Linked DNA regions of Homo sapiens. The protein of the gene in region 3 purifies or fractionates together with the protein of the main gene of each other region. This does not show direct contact. Each region holds a gene or a part of one and is shown on either strand. Other genes may lie near its edges.

Region 1 (7,468 bases), on a different chromosome or scaffold from region 3:
GCATTACGAATATTTATAACGGGGAAACAGGTTACCAGGAACCTCATACCAATGGCTCCCCCACTCTTTACCAACAGCAGCTGTGGGGACAGGAGTTTGTGGAAAGTATAGCAGCCGGGTCTGGCTCTTGGATTTTAATGTGGCTGGTGGGAACAGGCTACATATTTCTAATTAGAACTCCCCCAGTAGCCTGGCTCTGGGGAACTTGCCCTCACTTGCTCTTAGGTCGCAGGGAATCATGACCAGGGAAGACGACTCCAGGCCCTTGGGGTCCGGGTACACGGTGTGTTGCCCTCACCCTAAGGTAGAAGGCTGGGTTCTCAATGGACCTGTCCTTGGAGTTTTTGAGCCCCCAAGCAGGCATGGGAATCCCAGTTTTCTTCCTGTCCCATCCACCTCCTTGGGTTAACGAATGAGTCAAGTTGTCACAAAAAGAAAGCTCCGGAATGTCACATGGAAAAATGAAGACATCTGGCCATAGCGTCTCTACCATCCCTCATACTTCCCACTGTCTGATTTTATGACAATTTCTGCTCCTTGCCCGTTTCCACCTTTACTTGTCATTAAGGAGACTGACAACACCAATGACAAAAAAATCAGTCTGTGATTAGAAATGAGTGAATCAGAAAAAGGATCACACTTCTTAGGCAATTTGCATAGGTGGTGAGTGAACATTCACAGACCTTTGATGATTCGCTGATCTTGTATGGCCGAGACACTCGCGTCTGCCTGCTTCCCTCCATCATTAAAGAGATTTCAGCCCTAGGAGAAGAACAGGATTTCTGAGCATGCAGTCATAACTCTAGGTCATTCATTAATTTCAGGCCCTGCTAGCAGATACCAAGGATGACAGTGAAAACAGTCACACGGAAGAAGGAGGGAGGGAGGACCGTGCACTACAAAGAACTCTTTTACACCGAGTTGAGAAATCATCGGGTTGTTAGAATTGGACAGAACATTTAACTCCCATTCCTTTATCATCTAAAATCTGATATCATGTCATTTGGTTCACTTCCTACAAATAATTACCTTTTGGCTACATCAAGGTTATAATGATAAGTTATCATTTCGGAGCCCAGACTACAGCCCTCGAACCAAGCTAAGTGACTTAAGTGTGCCATCTCATTTAACCCCCACAAAGATTATACTTGGCCAGGCTGATATCACTTATTTCATTTCACAGATGAGGATATTGATCTCATGGTCACAAAGCTAGTAAACGGCCGAGAATCACGCCTCGGTCTGTCCAGCTTCAAAACCTGGATCCATCACCATGACACGCTGCTGAATGAGGCCCGGGTTCGAGAGTATCACACTTTAAAAATATCATGATGCAGATGAGGATGTGGTACAGTGATGACTACCATGTACACAGTACATTCTAGACACACACTGTCCCCAAGTGCTTCTCTGCATCTTCACTTAGTCCCCACTGCAACCCCATGAGGCCAGCACTGTGACTGGAGGATGCTGAGAGCAGTGAGGTGAAATAAGCTGCCCGGCGTCACACAGCTGGGAACTGGCAGAATTGGGATTCCAGCTCAGGGAAGCGCCCATGCTCTTAACTCTTAGGCTACACTGCCTGGCTCTTGGGTGGGGGATCACTGCAGACAGAGTTAAGCTTTGGTGTGTGGGGGGCGGGGGAGGCAGGGGGAGGGGCAGGTGCTTCAAAGATGGAAGGGAACACAGAGAAGGGACTTTGCCAACTAATATTAGCACAAGTCACATACTGAGACGAAGGTTTTAAAGAGGATTTTTTTCCCCCGCTATTTGAGTTCATGAGAAGAGTTTGTTACCTATTGAACAAATAGTCTTCACTAATAAAGAACAATGTGACAAGAAGTCAGCACTGTTCTTAGATAACTGGGGACACAGGGAGGGCACTCCAGTGTTCCCATGGAAGGAATGAATTCGGGCACAGTCCGTCCCGTGCAACTCCCCTAGGGAGAGAAGGGGCAACTGGATTCCTCTCGACAAACTAGAAACTTTGTGACAATGACAAGCTGTTCCCACCCCGGCCCTCCCCTAGGATGCTGGAGAGCCCAGAGAGGGAAGAGAAGAAACCCAGCGTTGGTGCGGTGCCCACCGCGGACTCGACTTCATTCCACCTTCACGCTGAGAGGTGACACCGTCGTTCCCACAGTGAGACCTGGCGCTCGGGTGCCCCAGGGGGGGTTGCCCAAGGTCACAGAACAGCAAGCAGCAGGTGCCCTCTCTCTCCACCGCCCCAGGCAGCCTGCCCAGAATCAACCAGGCCTTCTAACGCTCAACGCTTTATTTTCTAGGCCAAGATACCTAGAGAGAGTTCGCGGGGCCGGAGGCTCCCTGCTGTCTCCTGCAAGTGCGTGGGGGTGGGGTCTGATTTCCACCCGTGTTGGACGTCAGCGGCCTCCGACGCTTTTTGGAAGCAGGTGAAGGGTCAAGGCCACCCCCAAGCACAGTGACAATCCCAGGTCACTGGAAAAGGTCTTCCAGTAAACATGGGACCGCAGGCCCCGTCCGGCCGGGGGTTTCCCAGAGCGCCTCCTCCCCAAGCTCCCTCCCGACCTCAGCGTTGGAGAAAGCGACGCTGCTGACACCGGCTCGCCGGCGGGGTCTCCGGGGACGCCGCTGTCGTTCGCTCGGACCCCGCAGCCCAGGCGGAACTCAGCGCAACGGCCGCCCAGCAGGCTCCAGCCGGCGGCGAGGAGGCGGAGTCGGGACGGCCCGGGGCGGGGGCCACTCACCTGCCACGCGCGGGGCGGTCCGCACAGGCCGCACCTGTGTCACCTGCGGGGGCGGCGGCCCCTCCCCCGGCCGCGGCGCCCCCACTCGCCCACCCGCCCGCCCCGGCACCAAGGGGCGCAGGGGGGTCGCGGCTCGCGGTGGCCGGGGACCCTCCCGATCTCCGCCAGCTCCCCGCCCCGGCCGGGCGCGGCTTCCTGGCGGTCCCGGGCTGGAGGGTGGGCGCGCGCGGAGGCCCACCTGGCAGGACGCGCTACGGACGCGGCGGGGACAGCCCCGGCGGCGGGGCCGGGCGGTCGGGGCGGCGGGGCCCGGGTTCAGGAGACCCCCGGCCAGCCCGCTGCGCAGCCATGGCTCCGCCAGGAAGTGCGAGGCCGAGGGCGGAGGCGGCGCGCGCGGCCAATGGCGGCGGCCGCGGGGAGGCGGGGCCGGGCGGCGCGGGGCGGGGCCTGCGGCTGAGGGCGGGACGCGGGGGCCGTGGGGTGAGCTCGCAGGGTGGACGCCCCCCTCGTCCGCGCCCCGGGGATCCCCGGTGTCCACCCCACCACGACGCCCGACTCCGTCCCTTCAAAGGCAGGCCCCAGCCCCGCCGCGCGAAATGCTCCCTGGTGCCACCCACCGTCACGGACGCAGGGCCACGGCGGGGACCAGACACGCAGGGTCCCGGGCCTCGAGGCACCGACGCGTGCGCTGGGAGCTCTTTGCTGGCCCAGAGTCGCCGGGACGGGCACCGCGCCTCTCGCCTCCTTCCGGGCTGAGCGGGAGCGTCCCTGCGGCCACCCTGCGGCGAGGCCTTTGCTGACCGCTCTGCTCGAAGTCACAGCCCCTCTCTCTGCACCCAACTTCCAACCCCATGCTTCACTTGAGCTCTTATCAGCGTCTAATATTCCAAATAATGTACTAGTTTATTCGGTTTATTGTCTCTCCTCCCTACCAGAAGCCCTCCAGGGCAGGGTTTACTGTTAGTTCTATTCCTGACTGGGTCGTCGCCAAGACTGGCACACAGTAGGTGCTCAGTAAATGTGTATGGAATGAATGAATGTAACCTTCATCGATCCATCTATCAATTGTCACACTTCGCTCATGCTACAGCGGGATGAACCTTGGAGATGTAATACTTAGTGAAAGAAGCCAGACACAAAAGACCACACACTGTATGATTCCGTGTATGTGAAATGTCCGGAACAAGCCAATCCATAGAGACAGAAAGTAGATGAGTGGTTGCCAGGGGCGGGGAGTTGCTGGAGTGGGAAATGGCTGCTGAAGGATCAGCGATTTCTTTTGTGTAGTGCTCACTACAGCCTCCACCTCCCAGGCTCAAGTGATCCTCCTGCCTCAGTCTTTCATGCAGCTGAGACCACAGGTGCCGGCTGCCACACCTGGCTATTTTTTTTTCTTTGATTTTTATAGAGACAGGGTTTCAGTTTGTTGTCCAAGCTGGTCTTGAACCCCTGGGCTCAAGCGATCCTCGTGCCTCGGTATCCCAAAGTGCTGGGATGACATGTGTGAGCCAGCACACCCAGCCCACTTACAGGATCTTTATTTTTTAATTATTTATTTATTTATTTTATTTATTTATTTATTTATTTTTTTTCTTTTTTTTTTTGAGACGGAGTCTCGCTCTGTCGCCCAGGCTGGAGTGCAGTGGCGGGATCTCGGCTCACTGCAAGCTCCGCCTCCCGGGTTCACGCCATTCTCCTGCCTCAGCCTCCCAAGTAGCTGGGACTACAGGCGTCCACCACCTCGCCCGGCTAATTTTTTGTATTTTTAGTAGAGACGGGGTTTCACCGTGTTAGCCGGGATGGTTATTTATTTTTTTGAGACAGAGTCTTTCTGTCACCCCGGCTAGAGTGCAACGGCTCAATCTCAACTCACTGAAATCTCCACTTCCTGGATTCAAGCGATTCTCCTGCCTCAGCCTCCTGAGTAGCTGGGATTACAGGCGCCCACCACCACGCCTGGCTAATTTTTGTATTTTTAGTAGAGATGGGGTTCACCATATTGGCCAGGATGGTCTCAAACTGCTGACCTCGGGTGATCTGCCTGCCTCAGGCTCCCAAAGTGCTGGGATTACAGGTGTGAGCCAAGGATCTTTAAATGATGTTCTCACTGACTGGATTGCTGTCCCCCATCTCTCTCTCTCTCTCTCCCCTTTTCTTTGGGGACTGTACACATTCACCCTGCCAAGCCTTACTTGCCTGTCTTTGACCCTTCCTGGACCTGTCCCTACCCCAGACAAAGCTAATCCTCCTGTTATTCTGTCTCCATACCGACATGTGGATGGATCTCTGTTCTGACATGAATTCATGCACTGCCTCTCATTCATCCAACAGACTTTTCAGGAACACCTGCTGTGTGGCCGGCACTGTAGTAGGTGCCAGGGATACAAAGAAGAAACTTTCAGGGCTCTTAGGAAGACAGGAAAACAAGTCAATCAGCAATGGTCCTAGCGTGGTGAGTACTGTGTTGGGGCAATACACGGAGCACCAAGAGTTGGACATATTCTTTTTTACAGCTAGAGTTAAAGATTCTCTTGATAAATAGATATAGGTAGATAAATAGATACATGCCCCTCTATATATGGGTATCTATCATATCTATTTATCTGTCTAACAAGAGATTTAGCTGTAGATATTTTAAGAGCCTATAACTCTTATATAGATAAATGGATACATGCACCTCTATATATGGGTATCTATGCTATCTATCTATCTATCTATCTATTTATCTAACAAGAGATTTCGCTGTAGAGCCTATAACTCAGCATGAACATCGGCCTTCCGGGTGTTGTGTTCATCATGAATGAGAAGACGTGCAACCTGGTGTATGGGGGCCGGAGTAAGGGCCTAAGACAAGCTCATCCACACATGACCTTGACATGAAAACGGTGTGGACTCGGCTAACTTGGCTTCACCCTGCGTTCCCCAACAGCACTTTGTGAACCACTCTCTCAGTCTTTTTCTTTCAGTAACGTTTTGTGTCCTCCCAAATTATAAAAGTAATGCATGCTTTACTCAGCTACTCTCAATACAGAAAAGTTCAAAACAAAAAACCAAACAGCCATGTGTAGTGGCTCATGCCGGTAATTCCAGCACTTTGGGAGGAAAAAGGATCACTTGAGCTCAGGAGTTCGAGACCATCCTGGGCAACATAGCAAGACTCTCGTCTGTACAAAAAAAAATTAAACATCAGCCAGTCATGGCTGCATGCATTTGTAGTCCCAGCTACTTGGGAGGCTAAGGTGGGAGGATTGCTTGAGCCCACGAGGTCGAGGTTGCAGTGAGCTGTGGTTGTGCCACTGTACTCCAGCCTGGGTAACAGAGCAAGACCTTGTCTCAAAAACAAAACAAAATAAAACAAACACTCATTTCTACATCATTCAAAAAAATTGGTTCATATTGTTCTCTCAACATTTTCCTCTTACACAATTTCTTTGCCATAATGATAATTCCAGTTTTCTAAGCACTAGGCAGTGCTGTAAGCCCTCTGCATGTATTAACTCATTTGATACTATCTCTGTACCCTGGGATGTGGATCTCCATCCTTACATGAATTCATGCACTCCCTCCTTCGTTCATTCAGCAGACTTTTCAGGAACACCTGCTGTAAGCCTGGCACTGTGGTAGGTGCCAGGGATATAAAGAAGAAAATTTCAGGGGTTTTAGGAAGACAGCCAAACAAGTCAATCAGCCATGACCCTATCATGGTGAGTTAATACCTTGATCCTTTGAGGAAGGTATCATTACTTTCCCTGTTTGCAGATGGGGAAGCTGAGTCCTGGAGAAGTTAAATCCCTTGCTCAAGGTCCCAGAACTCGTAAGGAGCAGAGCTGGGCTTTGAACCCAGGGAGTCTGCCTCCAGTGTCTGCAGCCCTAGCCTTGGCCACTGCCCAACAGTACCTCAGTGCACTGATGACAGTGATGTGTGCTCAGTGCAGACAGTTGGAAAACAGGCCCAGAAGAGGAAAACATAACCCACCTGAGGAGAACAGCTATTGGCATTTAAGGATAAACCAGCTCAATATTTTTCTCCTGCATATATTCCCTGCACGCCTATGCAAATGAGATCCTATGGTGCACACTCCTTGGTAGCTGACTTTTTCCCCATTTTGCAAATGTCATGAGTTTTTCACATGTCAGTAAGTCCTCGTTGATGACATGATGTTTAATGGCTGTGCCTGATCCTTCAGTATGGATTGTGCCCTTGACCTCCCCCCATTGTTGGGCATCCAGCTGGTGTCTCTATTATGAATCATGCCGTGGTGAACATCCTTGCTCACACATCCATATGCACATCTCTGACAGTGAAGGGGAATTGCTGGCTCCAAAGGTCTGCATATTTGTAAGACCCTAAACCATGCCTCTCCCCTGAAAGCCTGTCCTAATTGGTGCCCCCAACAGCAGCTCAACACTGTCACTTCTGAGATTCAGGCACCATCCGATGGAGCCAGCCAGCTATATGTTTTGCATGGCCCAGTGCAGGATGAAAATGTGGGCCACCTTTTGTTCCAAAAAAGCAGGAGAAAAGCTTGTTCCTTTCTTTTGCACACTCTCTCCCCAACATGGTGCCTTTTTTCCTTTTTTCTTCCTTTCTCTCTCCTTCCTTCTTTCCTTCCTTCCTTCTTTCCTTCCTTCCCTTCTTCCTTCCTTCCTTCTTTCCTCTTTCTTTTCCTTCCTTCCTTCGTTTCTTTCTTTCTTTCTTTCTCTCTCTCTCTCTCTCTTTCTTTCTTTCTTTCTTTCTTTCT
Region 2 (7,639 bases), on a different chromosome or scaffold from region 3:
GTGCCCAGCAGGTTGTTGTCTCCGAAGGGGTTGTCGGTGTTGGTGTAGCCCATGTACTCCTCACCCCAGCCCATCTTCTCCCGCTTCTTGCGCTCCTTGGCCTCCTTCTTGGCCAGCCGCCGTGCGCGCTTCTCCTCGGGCGTCTCGAAGGCCTTCATCAGCTCCTCCTGCTGCTTCCGCTCCTCCCGCAGCCGCAGCCGCTCCTGCAGGCTCTGCTGCTGGCTCAGGGCAGCCGCGGCCGCCCGGGGGCTCTGGGATCGCCCTGGAGACGCGGAGCTGGATGCTGAGGAGCTAGGAGACCACGAGCGTGCGCGCCGTCGCCGGCGAGCCCACTGGCCCCGTGACTGCTCCTCTCCTGAGTCCGACTGAGAGGACCCATCTCTTGAGTGCCACTTGGGCCGCGGGGGGCTCCGGCTTCGCATCCCTGAGCGCTGCCACCGCTCTTCCTCTGAATCTGACCTGCGGAGAGGACCATGGATGCCTGCTCAGTGCCTGCAGCTGTCATCTGCTCCACAGATGCTTACTGGGTGCCCGTGGGGGAGCAGGCACTGTTCTAGGTTCTGGGGACACAGCAGTGACCCAAATACCGATGGCTTCTGCCTTCCTGGGCTCACCCTCTGGTGGGCCCCAACAAGGAAGACATCAACAAATAAACACACCACGCAACACTAGGCAGAGGCAGAAGCCACAAAGAGTAGCAATGCCGAGCACAGGGGCTGGGGCTGCAGGGCCGAGGTCAGAGAGGGGCTCTCTCAGGAGCTGACACTGAGCCAAGGTCTGGAGGGAGTGGGGAGGCAGCGATGGGTGGATTCGGAGGGAGAGTGCTCGAGGCAGAGCAAGAGCGAGGGCCTAGAGGCAGGCACTGACCTGCCACATTCTAAGAACAACAAGGAGGCTGTATGGCTGAGACAGAGTGTGGGGGAGAGGGAGGAGGCGCGGGCAGGGAGGTGGCTGGGGCTGGTGGCGCAGGAATTATAAGGGTACGAACCAGGGGACCCGAACACATTTAGGCTGTCAAGGGAGGGCTTCCTAGATGGAAGTGGTATTTGAACTAGTCCCACAGGATGGACAGGAGTTAACAGAGTAGAGCGCAGGGAATGGAAGATGCACAACCTCAGGGGTGGTTCAGGGGCCTTTAATTTTATTTATTAGAGACAAGGTCTACTAGACACAGAGTCTACTAGAGACAAGGTCTATATTTTTATTTATTAGAGACAGAGTCTCCCTCTGTCACACAGGCTGGAGTGCATGATCAGAGCTCACTGCAGCCTTGACCTCCTGGGCTCAAGCCATCCTCTCGCCTCAGCCTCCTGAGTAGCGGGGACTACAGGCACACACCACCACGCCCAGGTAACTCTTTACATTTTTTTGTACAGAGGGGTCTTGCTATGTTGCCCAGGCTGGTCTTGAACTCCTGGGCTCAGGCAAGCCTCCTGTCTCAGCCTCCCAAAGTGTTGGGATTACAGATGTGAGCCACTGCGCTCAGTCACGTTTAGGGGTCTTTGTACACAGAGAACTGCCAAATATTTTGTTAAATGCTCTACCCATTAAGCTCATGTCAAAAAAATCTAAACTATGTTGAAACCAATCATTGCAGAGCCCTTAAATATTGGCCACAAGTTCAACTGAATTTTCGTGAACATTAATTCTAATTACATATCTAGAGTGGCAAATTATTGTGAATAATTCCAATACCAGAAAATGGTAGGCGAAAAAACACAAAGATGACATTAACAAGACTTATGGGCAGGCGCGGTGGCTCACGCCTGTAATCCCAGCACTTTGGGAGGCCGAGGCGGGCAGATCACTTGAGGCCAGGAGTTCAAGACCTGCCTGGCCAATATGGAGAAATCCCAGCTCTACGAAAAAATTCAAAAATTAGCTGGGTGTGGCAACAAGCACCTGTAACCCCAGCTACCGGGGAGGCTGAGGCTGAAGAATCGCTTGAACCCAGGAGGCAGAGGTAACAGCCGAGATCGTGCCACTGCACCCCAGCCTGGGCGACAGAGCAAGACTCCGTCTCAAAAACAAACAAACAAAAAAACCAACAACCGATGAGTGAACTTGGCCCAGAGCGGGGCAAGACTGGCCTGAGTGTCAGCCACGAAGGGGCTGAGCCAGCACTGGGGCCCCGGTCTGGGAATCAGTCCCTGTCCCCATTTTGGTTTCTCTGTACTGGAGCCGGCTCAAGGCAAATCCGACCAAGTGCCCCATCTCCAGAAGAAAAGGACCATGGGGAAGCTGAGATTCAGGCACTAGGAATCAGCTGTGAGTCCTGCCAGCTGACACCGAGTCTTTTTCCCTCCCACAGCCCACCTCCATTAGCAAATGTTGTCTCCTCTACTTCCAGAATCCCTCTGAAATCTACGCACTTTGCCCGCTGTGGTTGACTACAGCCTCCCTCCCATCGAGACTGCCATCATCTACTGTCTGGACAATTGTGCCGTCCTACTCTGATGCCGCTCCTGCCTACCCCGCTCCATCCCTTCTCCACCTCAAAGCCAGAAAGTATGCAGAGTTAAGTCAGTCCACGTCACTCCCCTACCCAAACTCCTCTCAAGACTCTCCATTTCCCTCCGACTAATAGCCAAGATCTAATGTGCTGAGCACACAGGGCTCGATATGATATGATCTGATCTCTCGTTACCTCCCCGCCGCCTCGCTCACCCGGCTCCGGGCTGTCCCTCCAACCGCCCGGTCCCCTGCCTGGAACGCCTCTCGCCTTCCTTCCGCTGCCAGGTTAATTCCAACCGGTGGTCAATTGTCCCCTTCTCTAGGAAGCCCTCCCCGAGTAAGTCGGGGGTTTCCCGGTTCCCCGGGATCTCCAACCCTCGGTCGGGCGCTCCTGAGGTAGGAGCCGGATCCCCAGCGCTGCTCCCGCAGCGACCCCACCTGCGCTCCCGGCTCCGCCGCCTCCGTCTGCGCCGTCCCTCGTCCTCCCGGCGCCGTCGGTTTCGCCGCCCATGGCTCCTGCTCCGACTTCGGCTCCCGCTCTGACTCTGCCGCCTTCGGCCCCGGCGACCCGCGGACCGCGAGCGCGAGCGTGTGTCCCGACCCATCGGCTGGGCCAGTGGCCGCGGCACCAACACCAATAGCCGAAGCCTGCGCTGGGGGCCTTCCTCGCCCACGGCGCTCTCCAGGCTGCCCCGTTTGCGCCTGAGCCGGGAAAGAGCAACCCATCCCGTCGCCCCAGCCCGCAAGGACTCCGACACCCCAGACTTTCCACTACGTCTGCAAATGTGGACCGCGTGATTGACTCCAGTGGGATTGTTGCCTCCAGGGTGGCGGAGTCTCCTTTCAGGCAGTGCTGGAGGCAGCCCTAGGCGGGTCCCCACGCCTCAGGGGGCCTGAGAAACTGTGGGCGGGGCAAGGGCAAACTAGGAACCTTGTGCAGGGAGGGGCCTGCCGAGGCGAGACCAATAAGAAGCGGGTCTAGGTCGGAAGTAGCGCTTCATTGGCGTGGCCAGGGGCGTGGCCGAGGAGAGGCGTGTCCGGGGAGCGAGGTCCCCGAAAGGCGAGGAACCGGGAAGGTGTTAGGTGCCAGGCAGCTCCAGAGGGCAGAGGGCGGGCGCGGGGACAGAAACTGAAAAGCCTTCTTATGAGAGTCATCGTTATGCTCCACCACCTGCCAATGAACACCTATGTATTTTGGGAGTTAAGCTTTAAAAAAAAACAAAAACTTTGATAACTCCCTGTATTCCCCCATCAACCCATTTTAGAGACGGGGAAACTGAGGCTCAGAGAGGGAAAGTCACTCTTAACACTTGCCTTCTCAACCCAGGCTGCCCAGCTTTGTGGTGTGGGTGCTGGGGACCCGTGGGAGGGTTGTGAGCAGGGTTTGGGGGACTTGCTGTTGAAACAAGTTTGGCGTGGGAGGACGGACTTCAGGGGCAAGGCTGGAGGCCAGAGACCTAGAAGACGCTGATGTCCCATCCTGAGCTCCCCTAGCCCATGGTGGCTGCTACCACCACCCCGTGCAGTTCTAACCACTCGGGGCTGGGAAGGCCTGTTTATGGAGGATGATAGTAATTTAAGCTAACTTTTAAAATATTTATCTTGGCCGGGCACGGTGGCTCACGCCTGTAACCCCAGCACTTTGAGAGGCCGAGGCGGGCGGATCACCTGAGGTCGGGAGTTCAAGACCAGCCTGGCCAATATGGTGAAACCCTATCTCTACTAAATAATACAAAAATTAGCCGGGTGTGGTGGCATGCACCTGTGATCCCAGCTACTTGGGAGGTTGAGGCAGGGAGAATTGCTTGAACCTGGGAGGCGGAGGTCGCAGTGAGCCGAGATCGTGCCACTGCGCTATGGCCTCGGCGATAGAGCAAGACTCCGTCTCAAAAAAAAAAAGAAAATTAAAATGTTTATCTTGAGTGGGGTGCAGTGGCTCATGCCTGTAATCCCAACACTTTGGGAGGCCGTGGCAGGTGGATCTTGAGGTCAGGAGTTCGAGACCAGCCTGTCCAACATGGCGAAACCCCGTCTCTACTAAAAATACAAAAATTAGCTGGGCATGGTGGCATGCTTGTAATTCCAGCTACTCGGGAGGCTGAGGCAGAAGAATCGCTTGAACCCAGGAGGCAGAGGTTCCTGTGAGTTGAGATCGCATCATTGCACTCCAACCTGGGCGACAGAGCAAGTCCCCGTCTCAAATAAATAAATAAATAAATAAATAAATAAATAAAACGTTTATCTTGGAATACAACTTCATAACATCCCCGTAAACGCTGGCTTTGTATGCTTTGCTTGGTGTTAAGGCAAGGATGGAACCTTACAGAGGAAGAAGAGACCATCTCCTGCCGCTCTAGATGATGACCTTGCCGGTCCTGAGATGTGGGTTGTCATGCTGATGGGATGGCCCAAAACAAAGCGAAGGCCTGACCCTGTGCTTCCCAAAATTCAGATGCATCCTTGCAGCACATTAAGAGATCACTTGCATGGGCCGGGCGCGGTGGCTCAGTCCTGTAATCCCAGCACTTTGAGAGGCCAAGGTGGGTGGATCACCTGAGTTCAGGAGTTCGAGACCAGCCTTGTCAACATGGTGAAACCCCACCTCTACTAAAAATACAAAATTTAGCCGGGTGTAGTGCCAGGCACCTGTAGTCCCAGCTACTCAGGAGGCCGAGGAAGAATTGCTTGAACCTGGGAGGCGGAGGTTGCAGTGAGCTGAGATCGTACCATTGCATTCCAGCCTGGGTGACAGAGCGAGACTCCATCTCAAAAAAAAAAAACAAAAAAACAAAAAACAAACTTAAAACAACGAGATCACCTCCATGTTCAGTTTATAAAACAGCTGTGCTGAAACGTTCCAACGGCTCCCTTACAGACAGGATCTTACTTTTTTTTTTTTTTTTTTTTTGAGACATTTTCTTGCTCTGTCGCCCAGGCTGGAGTGCAGGGGCATGATCTCAGCTCACTGCAAACTCTGCCTCCCAGGTTGGAGCAATTCTCTGGCCTCAGCCTCCCGAGTAGCTGGGATTACAGGTGTGAGCCATCACGCCTGGCCAGGATCTTGTTTTCAATGTAGTTTCTCAACCTGGGAGTCCAAGATAAATGTGTTCCCTTCAAGGGGTCCAAACGTGACTGAATTGGAACCGCTCTAGCAGAACAAATACAAACTTTGGGGGGCTGCAAAGATGTTGGAAACAATAAAATGTTTTCTGAGCTGAACTGGGACCTGAAGAAGGTTCACAGCTGGTAAGGTGTTTGGGTCCTATTACTGGTATCAGCATCAATCTCACAAAGGTTTCTCTCTTCTCTAAGATTCAAAGTCAGTCCTCAGGCCAGGCACGGTGGCTTACGCCTGTAATCTCAGCACTTTGGGATGAGGCGGGTGGGTCCTTTGAGGTCAGGAGTTTGAGACCAGCCTGGCCAATGTGGTGAAACCCCGTCTCTACTAAAAATACAAAAAAATTAGCCAGGTGTGGTGGCGGGCGCCTGTGGTCCCAGCTACTCGGGAGGCTGAGGCAGGAGAATGGCTTGAACCCGGGAGGCAGAGGTTGCAGTGAGCTGAGATCACTCCACTGCGCTCCAGCCTGGGCAACAGAACGAGACTCCATCTCAAAAAAAAAAAAAACAAAACACAGGCTGGGTGCGGTGGCTCACACCTGTAATCCCAGCACTTTGGGAGGCCGAGGTGGGCGGATCACGAGGTCAGGAGATCGAGACCATCCTGGCTAACATGGTGAAACCCTGCCTCTACTAAAAATAAAAAATTAGCTGGGCGTGGTGGCGGGCGCCTGTAGTCCCAGCTACTCAGGAGGCTGAGGCAGGAGAATGGTGTGAACCCAGGAGACGGAGCTTGCAGTGAGCTGAGATTGCGCCACTGCACTCCAGCCTGGGTGGAGAGCGAGACTCCATCTCTTAAAAAGAAAACAAACAAACAAACAAAAACAGAAAACAAAAAACACAGAACAAAGTCACTCCTCAGACTCCCAACCAGACCTCCGGAACCCACAGAAAGGCAAACAGGCGGATGCTTATTACCCGATTTATTAGAGAGATCTCTAAAAAGACGGGGTGTGGCGGGGGTAGGTGGGCGAGGAACCTGGGATGCAAACCAGTGTTTGGGGCCAGGAGTGGCTGTATGGTTTCAGAGGCGCCCACCACTCTGGGTTTGAGGGACACAGCACCCTCGTCTCGGCGCTTTGGATTGTCACGCACCAGACCACGGGGCGGAGGAATGGAGTGGCATCCCTGGGGGGAGTTAAGACACACGAGGTTTGCAGTTTCATTTTGTTTCAGAATCAGTTTGGCCATAAAAATGGGACTGGGTTGGGGACAGGCGGAGCGATTGAACCACCGGAGATGAGGAGGAGGTGGCAGGCGCCTCTCCTGGGGTGGGGACTGAGGGCTGTGGAGACAGTACCATGGTGAAGGACCCCATGGCAATGGGAGTATTGCACTGAGCCAGGTTTCGGGGGAACGGGGACGTGTCGGGATGGCGTAGGGGGACAGAGCCTGGCAGGAGACACATGGAAGTTTCCGCCTTGTCAGTCTCAGAGCAAACGCCTTTTAGTCTTTACAGTACAGGAATTTGGACACTGCCCACGTTCTCAGTGGACAGCAGCCATCAGAGGTGACCCAGGAGGGGAAGTGGGCATTGGTCACCAAGGTATTTACAGACTTCTATCATGGGGGACAGCGGGGTGGGTCCAGCAGCCTCCCTCGCGGGGGATCTGAGGGAGACCGAGTTCGCTAAATATTATAAATAGGTCTTGCCGTCCTCCTGCCCCCGCCCCTCGGCACAGTCAGTGGAGCACGTCAGCCTCGGTTTACAGTTCTCTGAAAAGGAACCAAAAAACACAACCAACACCAAGTATATCTCCAAAAGGGCCTTGGAGACAACACAAGAATGGAAATGAAATGGTATCCACAGAGGTTTGCACATTTCTCCTGCAAAGGCGCGTCGGCCGGGCACTGGTGTCCCGTGTCACTCAGCGGAGGGAGGCTGCCCTGGACGCGGTGCCGCCCGCCCGGGGCCACACCTGCTGCTCCGAGTCACCCCACAGGCTCTTGGCGTCTCTGGTGCCAGGGCTCTGGGCAGGGCGACTCGAGGACTCCCTGGGAGGACTGGTGTGGCCTCTGGGGGTTGGGCCTTTGAGATGACAATGCCCCTGTCCCTGCTGGCCATCCA
Region 3 (7,199 bases):
GGGAGGCAGAGGCTGCAGTGAGCCGAGATCACGCCACTACACTCCAGCCTGGGTGACAGAGCCAGACTCCGTCTCAAAAAAAAAAAAGGATTTCACTACCTGCTAAATTACTGAATCAAAGAAAACAAAGGCATGGTGTGGTATGCTGAATAATGCACAACCCTGCCCCCTCCGCCCCCCCAGCCAGATCTCCATTTCCTTATCTCTGTAACTGGTGAATATGTTACCTTACATGGCAAAAGGGACTTTGCAGATGTGATTAAATTAAGAATCTTGACATGGGGATATTATCCTGGATTAAAGGGGTGGGCCTGAGGCAATCAAACCAGTCCTTATACGAGGGATGAAGTAGGAGTCAAAGAGGAGGCCATGTGATGACTGAAGCAGAGATTGGAGTGATGTGGCCACCAGGGAAGGAGCCAAAGTATGTCTGCAGTAGGAGTTGGAAGAGGCAAAAGATGGAAGCCTGAAGCCCCCAGAAGCAATCAGACCTGCTGACACCTTGACTTTAGACCACTGATATTGGTTTTGGACTTCTGATGTCCAAAACTCTAAGATAATACATTTGTGTTGTCTTAAGCCACCAAGTTTGTGGTAACTTGTTACAGCAGTAATATGAAACTAATACACATGTCTACCATGTTGTACATGGGAATTCAATCAAACCAGCCACATCCATCAGACCAGGGCTCAGCAAACTGCAGCCAAATCTAACCTGCCATTATTTGTCTATGGCCTACAAACTAAGAATGGCTTTCTATATTCTTAAACGGTTGAAAAAAGTCAAAAGATTTAATAATATTATAATGTACATCAATGTTACCAGACTAAGCATTCATCACAATATTCCCAACTCAGAGGAGAGCAATGGCTAGTAAAATTTAAAATTTTAAGTAGAATATCTTATTATGGCAAAATTCATAATAAAACTAAAAAATAGGCCAGGCGCATTGGCTCATGCCTGTAATCCCAGCACTTTGGGAGGCTGAGGTGTGTGAATCATGAGGTCAGGAGTTCCAGGCCAGCTTGGCCAACATGGGAAAACCCCATCTCGGCCGGGCGTGGGGGATCACGCCTGTAATCCCAGCACTTTGGGAGGCCGAGGTGGGCGGATCACGAGGTCAGGAGATCGAGACCATCCTGTCTAACACAGTGAAACTTCATCTCTACTAAAAATACAAAAAATTTGCCGGGCGTGGTGGCGGGCGCCTGTAGTCCCAGCTACTCGGGAGGCTGAGGCAGGAGAATGGCGCGAACCCGGGAGGCGGAGCTTGCAGTGAGCCGAGATCGCACCACTGCACTCCAGCCTGGGCGACAGAGCGAGACTCCGTCTCAAAAAAAAAAAAAAAGAAAAAAAAAAAAAGAAAACCCCATCTCTACCAAAAATACAAAAAGTAGCTGAGTGTGGTGGCGCATGCCTGTAATCCCAGCTACTCAGGGGGCTGAGGCAGGAGAATTGCTTGAACCTGGGAGGTGGAGGTTGCAGTGAGCCGAGATCACGCCACCGCCCTCCAGCCTGGGCGAGAGAGCGAGACTCCATCCCCCGCCCCCCCCAAAAAGGAAAAAATAAAAATAAGCCTATAGTCAAAGTAAGTTTCTGAGTGGCTCCTTTGTTAGCCAACCAAGGAAAGTCATTTACTGATACTGAGCTAAATTGTGTTTGGCTGCAGAAGTCAAAGAAATAGGCTCAAGAAAAATAAAACTTGTGAAGACTATTCACCTTTCAGCAAGAACAGTGGCTCTAAGAGTTGAGGACATTGAAATCAACATCAAAACAAAAACAAACAAACAAAAAAGGGCAAGGCACGGTGGCTCACACCTGTAATCTCAGCACTTTGAAAGCCTGCAGCAGAAGGATTGCTTGAGCCCAACAGTTCAAGACTACCCTGGGCAACACAGCAAGACCTTGTCTCTACAAAAAAATTAAAAAAAAAATAGCCGATGTGGTGGTGTGCATGTGTGGTCCCAGCTACTAGGGAGGCTAAGGTGGGAGGATCACTTGAGCCCAGGAGTTTGAGGCTGCAGTGAGCTGTGATCATGCCACTGCACTCCAGCCTGGGTGACAGAGCAAGACCCTGTCTCAAAAACAAAAACAAAAACAAAGCAAATGATTTCAAGTGGTTTTCCTTGGCTCCTGATGAATGTTTACCAATATTACTCAGTTGTTGTTTTTTACTCAAGGAGTCAATGTTGACTTTAAAGTGACTGAAGAATTGGACCGGGCGTGGTGGCTCACGCCTGTAATCTCAGCACTTTGGGAGGCCGATGTGGGCAGATCACTTGAGGTGAGGAGTTTGAGATCAGCCTGACCAACATGGTGAAACCCTGCCTCTACTAAAAATACAAAAAAAAAAAAAAAAAAAAAAATTAGCCAGGCATGGTGGCATGTGCCTGTAATCCCAGTTACTCAGGAGGCTGAGGCAGGAGAGTTGATTGAACCTGGGCGGTGGAGGTTGCAGTGAGCCAAGATTGTGCCACTGCACTCCAGCCAGCCTGGGTGACAGAGCCAGACTCTGTCTCAAAAAAAAAAAAAAAAAAAAAAATTGGCCTGGGTGTATGGTCTTGTGTGGAACAACTGCAGATGAGAGTATTTCAAAGAAGTCAGGAAAACACTAATTCAATTCAGTCTAAAGCATAATTTGCTAAGATGTATTACAAATATGTATGGAGCAGAAAAGGTTTAGACAAATGTACAATACTTGTCAAAATGTAAGTTGTTTAAAATCCTGTAGTTATTAATTGTATTATTAAACAGCAGGTACTTTGCAACAAACAAACAAACAAACTTGAATCTGTCTTGTGTTATTCTTGACAGTAGTGTCAACAGTGAAGTTCAGCTGGGCGCGGTGGCTCACACCTGTAATCCCAGCACTTTGGGAGACCAAGGTGGGTGGATCACGAGGTCAGGAGTTCAAGATTTTAGAAAATTTGAATTTGAATTTGAATTCAAAATTTTAGAAAATTTTCTAAATGAGAAGAACCCCACCCTTGACCACTATTATTGAACATGAATAGTTTTAAAAAATGGCTTTTGCCATAGACTTAGTAATGTTCCTTAATGAATTTAACCTAAAATTACAAGGCAAAACAGTGTTTATACCTGAAACCTGTACTGCAGTAAAGTCATTCAATGACATCCCACATTGTTTGAATCACAAACAGTGTCAAGGTGCTTTAATCACTTCTCGTGCTGTCAAAAGTTAAAAATCCAGATTTATATTCCCACACAAATTTGCGGTGGAAGTATTCTTGTACATGAATGTTCATAGCAGCATTATCTATATAATAACCAAAAAGTGAAAACATCCCCGTTGTCTGCCAATTGATGAATGAACAAAATGTGATATATCCATATGATGAAATATTATTCAACCATAAAAAGGAAAGAAGTACTGTAACATGGATGAACCTTGAAAACATTATGGTAAATGAAAGAAGCCAGACAAATGGCCACATATTGTAGGATTCCATTTATATGAAATGTCCAGAATAGGCAAATCCATAGAGATAAAAAGTAGATTAGTGGTTGCCGTGGGCTGGGAAGGTGGGGGATGTGCGGGTCGTGGTGACTACTAATGGGTATAAGATTTCTTTTTGAGATGATGGAAATGTTCTGGAATTAGTGGTGATGGTTACACAACTTTGTGAATACACTAAAAAACACCCAATTACACATTTTAAAAGGGTGAATTTTATGTTACGTGAATTATATCAACTAAAAAATAAGATACCTAAAAAATTATGTACTCATCTGGAATAGTCATTAAAATCACAATCATATTTAGAAACACACCCAAATCAGTATCATATATATATATATATATATATAATATAAACTATATAATGCATAGTCCTTTATTTAGCTGGTCTTATATATACATATGTGTATATATACATATAAATGCATGCGTTATAGAAATGTAAAGAATTTATATAATATTAAGGGTGTTGTGAGAAAGCCCACCAATCTTCATTGAGAAGTGACTCCCAGATCACAGGAGTCCCAGCTAACTTGGCCAAGACAAAGTAGGTTCTGGGAGGCTCCAGGCGCACCCCCGTATATCTTAGCCTGATAGGACAGCCCGGAAGTTTATAAGACTTCTGCTAACACGTGACCAGCGTAGCCACAAGGAAAAGGTGCAAGGCGCACTCGTGACGTCATTTCGGGGCGACCCTCTTCTTGGCGTAGAGTTTTCAGATTGCTCTTGGGAATCATGCCGAAAGTAGTGTCTCGGTCAGTAGTCTGCTCTGACACTCGGGACCGGGAGGAATATGACGACGGCGAGAAGCCCCTCCATGTTTACTACTGTTTGTGCGGCCAGATGGTCCTAGTGCTGGGTGAGTAGCCGGGAACTGCGGGGGCGTCTGCAAGGAGCCAGACTTCGGGTTCTTGAAGGCGAATTTCCTCTGGCTGTGATCTGGGAGCCACTTCTCAACGAAGATTGGTGGGTTTTCTCTCTCCGACTAAATCCTCCCTACGCATCCCCGCCCCACTCCAGGGCATTTTTTTTTTTCCTGCTTTTTGTTTAGCCTTGTGACTCTGTATCCAGACCTTCCTCAAAACTAAACTCCTTCAGGAGAACAAAAATAGAAACACAAACATATTGTATTTCCCTCTTAATCCACTGTCTTCAAAAACTACTGCCTCTAGAAGCTTTATAACTTTTCTGCTGGATACCAAGATGCTGCAGTTGCTCTTACCTCACAGCAAACGAAAATAAAACCCTCCCTCGATCCTGTATTCCCCTCCAGCTATAACCCCATTTCGTTGCTTCTTTTATAGCAAAGCTTCTCAAAAGAGTTGCCTATATTGGCTGTCTCTGCATCCTGACTTCTAATTCTCTCCTGACCTCACTTCAGGTAGGCTTTCCTTCCCACCTCATCATCTTAACCGTATTTGGCTCCATGTTAACAGTTCTAGTGGTCAGTTATCAATGTTCATTTTAATTCTGTCAGTGGCATTTGACAGAGGTAATCATTTCATTCCTTTTGCAACATGTTTTTTATTTGCTTCCAAGACTCCATACTCACTTGATTTTCCTCCTACCTCGTATTTCCCCCCCCCCTTTTTTTTCAGATGGAGTCTCACTCTGCTGCCCAGGCTGGAGTGCAGTGGTGCAATCTCGGCTCACTGCAAGCTCTGCCTCCCGGATTCAAGTGATTCTCCTGCCTCAGCCTCCCGAGTAGCTGGGATTACAGGCGCCCGCCACCATGCCCGGCTAATTTTTGTGTTTTTAGTAGAGACGGGGGTTTCACTACGTTGGCCAGGCTGGTCTCGAACTCCTGACCTCGTGATCCACCCGCCTCGGCCTCCCAAGGTGCTGGGATTACAGGCGTGAGCCACCGCGCCCAGCCTTAGATTTTTCCCCTTGTCTGGCTCCCTTTTCTCTCTCAGACTTTTAGGCATTCCAAGGCCCTATAGCTCAGTACTCTCACCTGTTCTCACTCTGTACCCACCCCCTAGGTGATCTCATTCATTCCCAAGCTTTAAATACAACTGACATGCTGGTAACTCCCAGATGTTCATCTTTAACCTGCACCTCTCCTGAGACTCCAATTGCCTATTCAACATCTCCACTTGAATGTCTAATGGGCCTCTCAAATATATCGTGCTGAAAATTGAGTTCATGACCCTCTACACCCCCTCTCCAATTGCTCCTCTTATAGTCATCCCTATTGCAGTCAGTAGTACAACTATTCATCCAGTATCTCAGACCAAAACCTGGAATCAGTCTTGACTTCTGTCTGTCACGTACCTTACATCTGTCCAGTCCATCAGGAAATCCTGCAGGTGCTTTCGTGAAAATGTATGCAGGATCTGACTGCTTCTTACCACCTCCATTCCTTTTTCTTTTTGAGACAGAGGGAGTCTCACTCTGTCACCCAGGCTGGAGTGCTGTGGCGCGGTCTCAGCTCACTGCAACTTCCGCCTCCCAGGTTCAAGCGATTCTCCTGCCTCAGCCTCCCAAGTAGTGTGCGCCACCAGGCCCGGCTAGTTTTTTTTTTTTTCTTTTTTTTTTTGAGATGGAGTTTCGCTCTTCTTGCCCAGGCTGGAGTGCAGTGGTGCGATCTCGGCTCACTGCAACTTCCACCTCCCAGGTTCAAGCGATTCTCCTGCCTCAACCTCCCTAGTAGCTGGGATTACAGGCATGTGCCACCACGCCCGGCTAATTTTGTATTTTTAGTAGAGATGGGGTTTCACCATGTTGGCCAGACTGGTCTTGAACTCCTGACCTCAAGTGATCCACCCACCTAGGCCTCCCAAAGTGCTGGGATTACAGGCATGAGCCACCACGGCCGGCCTACCACCTCCACTTCTAACACTGTAGTCCAAGCTACTACCATCTTTCACCTGGATTGGCACAATAGTCTCTTGCTCTCGTTGCTTCCACTCTTTTCCACATAGTAGCCAGAGTCCTGTTCAAAACCAATGGTTTCATATAACACTGAGAATAAAACCAAAGTCCATCCATACCAAGACCCTTGATCAGGCCTGTGGCTACCTCTCAGGCTTCATTCCCTAACAGTCTTCCTCTTGCTCATCGCACTTCAGCCACAGTGGCCTTTTTGCTTTTTCTCCATCATGTCAAAAGTGTTCCTGCCCCCCAGTGCCTTTTTAATTGGTATTTCTTCTGCCCCAAAAACTTTTCCCTCAATCCCTCCCTTACTTCATTCAGGTCTCTGCTAAAATGTAATTTCCTTAGAGAACCCTTCCCTGATTACCTTATCTAAAACAGCATCCCTGTCACTTTGTCCTCTTACCCTGCTTAATATTTAGCACTTATCATTACCCAAAATCATATTATAATTATTTTAAAATATGTTGCCTCTTCCACTAGAATGTAAGCTTCATCAGGGCCGGAACTTTTTTTTTTTTTTTTTGAAACAGTGTCTAGCTCTTGTAGCCCAGGCTGGAGTGCAATGGTGCGATCTCACCTCACTGCAACCTCTGCCTCCCAGGTTCAAGTGATTCTCTTGAGTAGCTGGGATTACAGGCACCTGCCACCATGTCTGGCTAATTTTTTTTTTTTTTTTTGAGACGGAGTTTCGCTCTTGTTGCCCAGGCTGGAGTGCAGTGGCACCATCTCGGCTCACTGCACCCTCCGTCTCCTGGGTTCAAGCGATTCTCCTGCCTCAGCCTCCCGAGTAGCTGGGATTACAGGCATGCACCACCATGCTCAGCTAATTTTGTATTTTTT

Evidence for each region.
Region 1: the proteins of STEEP1 (region 3) and KLHL36 purify together in Homo sapiens (affinity purification with mass spectrometry; 3 studies listed by BioGRID and IntAct, with this or other methods). This does not show direct contact.
Region 2: the proteins of STEEP1 (region 3) and CACTIN purify together in Homo sapiens (affinity purification with mass spectrometry; 3 studies listed by BioGRID and IntAct, with this or other methods). This does not show direct contact.

Annotation. Positions count from the first base shown.
Region 1 is NC_000016.10:84,644,146-84,651,613, reverse strand, and holds the start of KLHL36 (kelch-like protein 36), read right to left. Parts: upstream 3,104-7,468; 5' UTR 2,965-3,103; exon of another isoform or gene 2,727-2,964; intron 2,675-2,726; exon of another isoform or gene 2,548-2,674; intron 2,412-2,547; exon of another isoform or gene 2,286-2,411; intron 2,207-2,285; exon of another isoform or gene 2,035-2,206; intron 763-2,034; 5' UTR 747-762; coding exon 684-746; intron 1-683.
Region 2 is NC_000019.10:3,623,704-3,631,342, forward strand, and holds the start of CACTIN (splicing factor Cactin), read right to left. Parts: upstream 3,088-7,639; 5' UTR 3,060-3,087; coding exon 2,893-3,059; intron 460-2,892; coding exon 1-459. UniProt on the Homo sapiens protein: Plays a role in pre-mRNA splicing by facilitating excision of a subset of introns. Required for the splicing of CDCA5/Sororin, a regulator of sister chromatid cohesion. Involved in the regulation of innate immune response.
Region 3 is NC_000023.11:119,562,371-119,569,569, reverse strand, and holds the start of STEEP1 (STING ER exit protein), read left to right. Parts: upstream 1-4,160; 5' UTR 4,161-4,214; coding exon 4,215-4,338; exon of another isoform or gene 4,339-4,445; intron 4,446-7,199.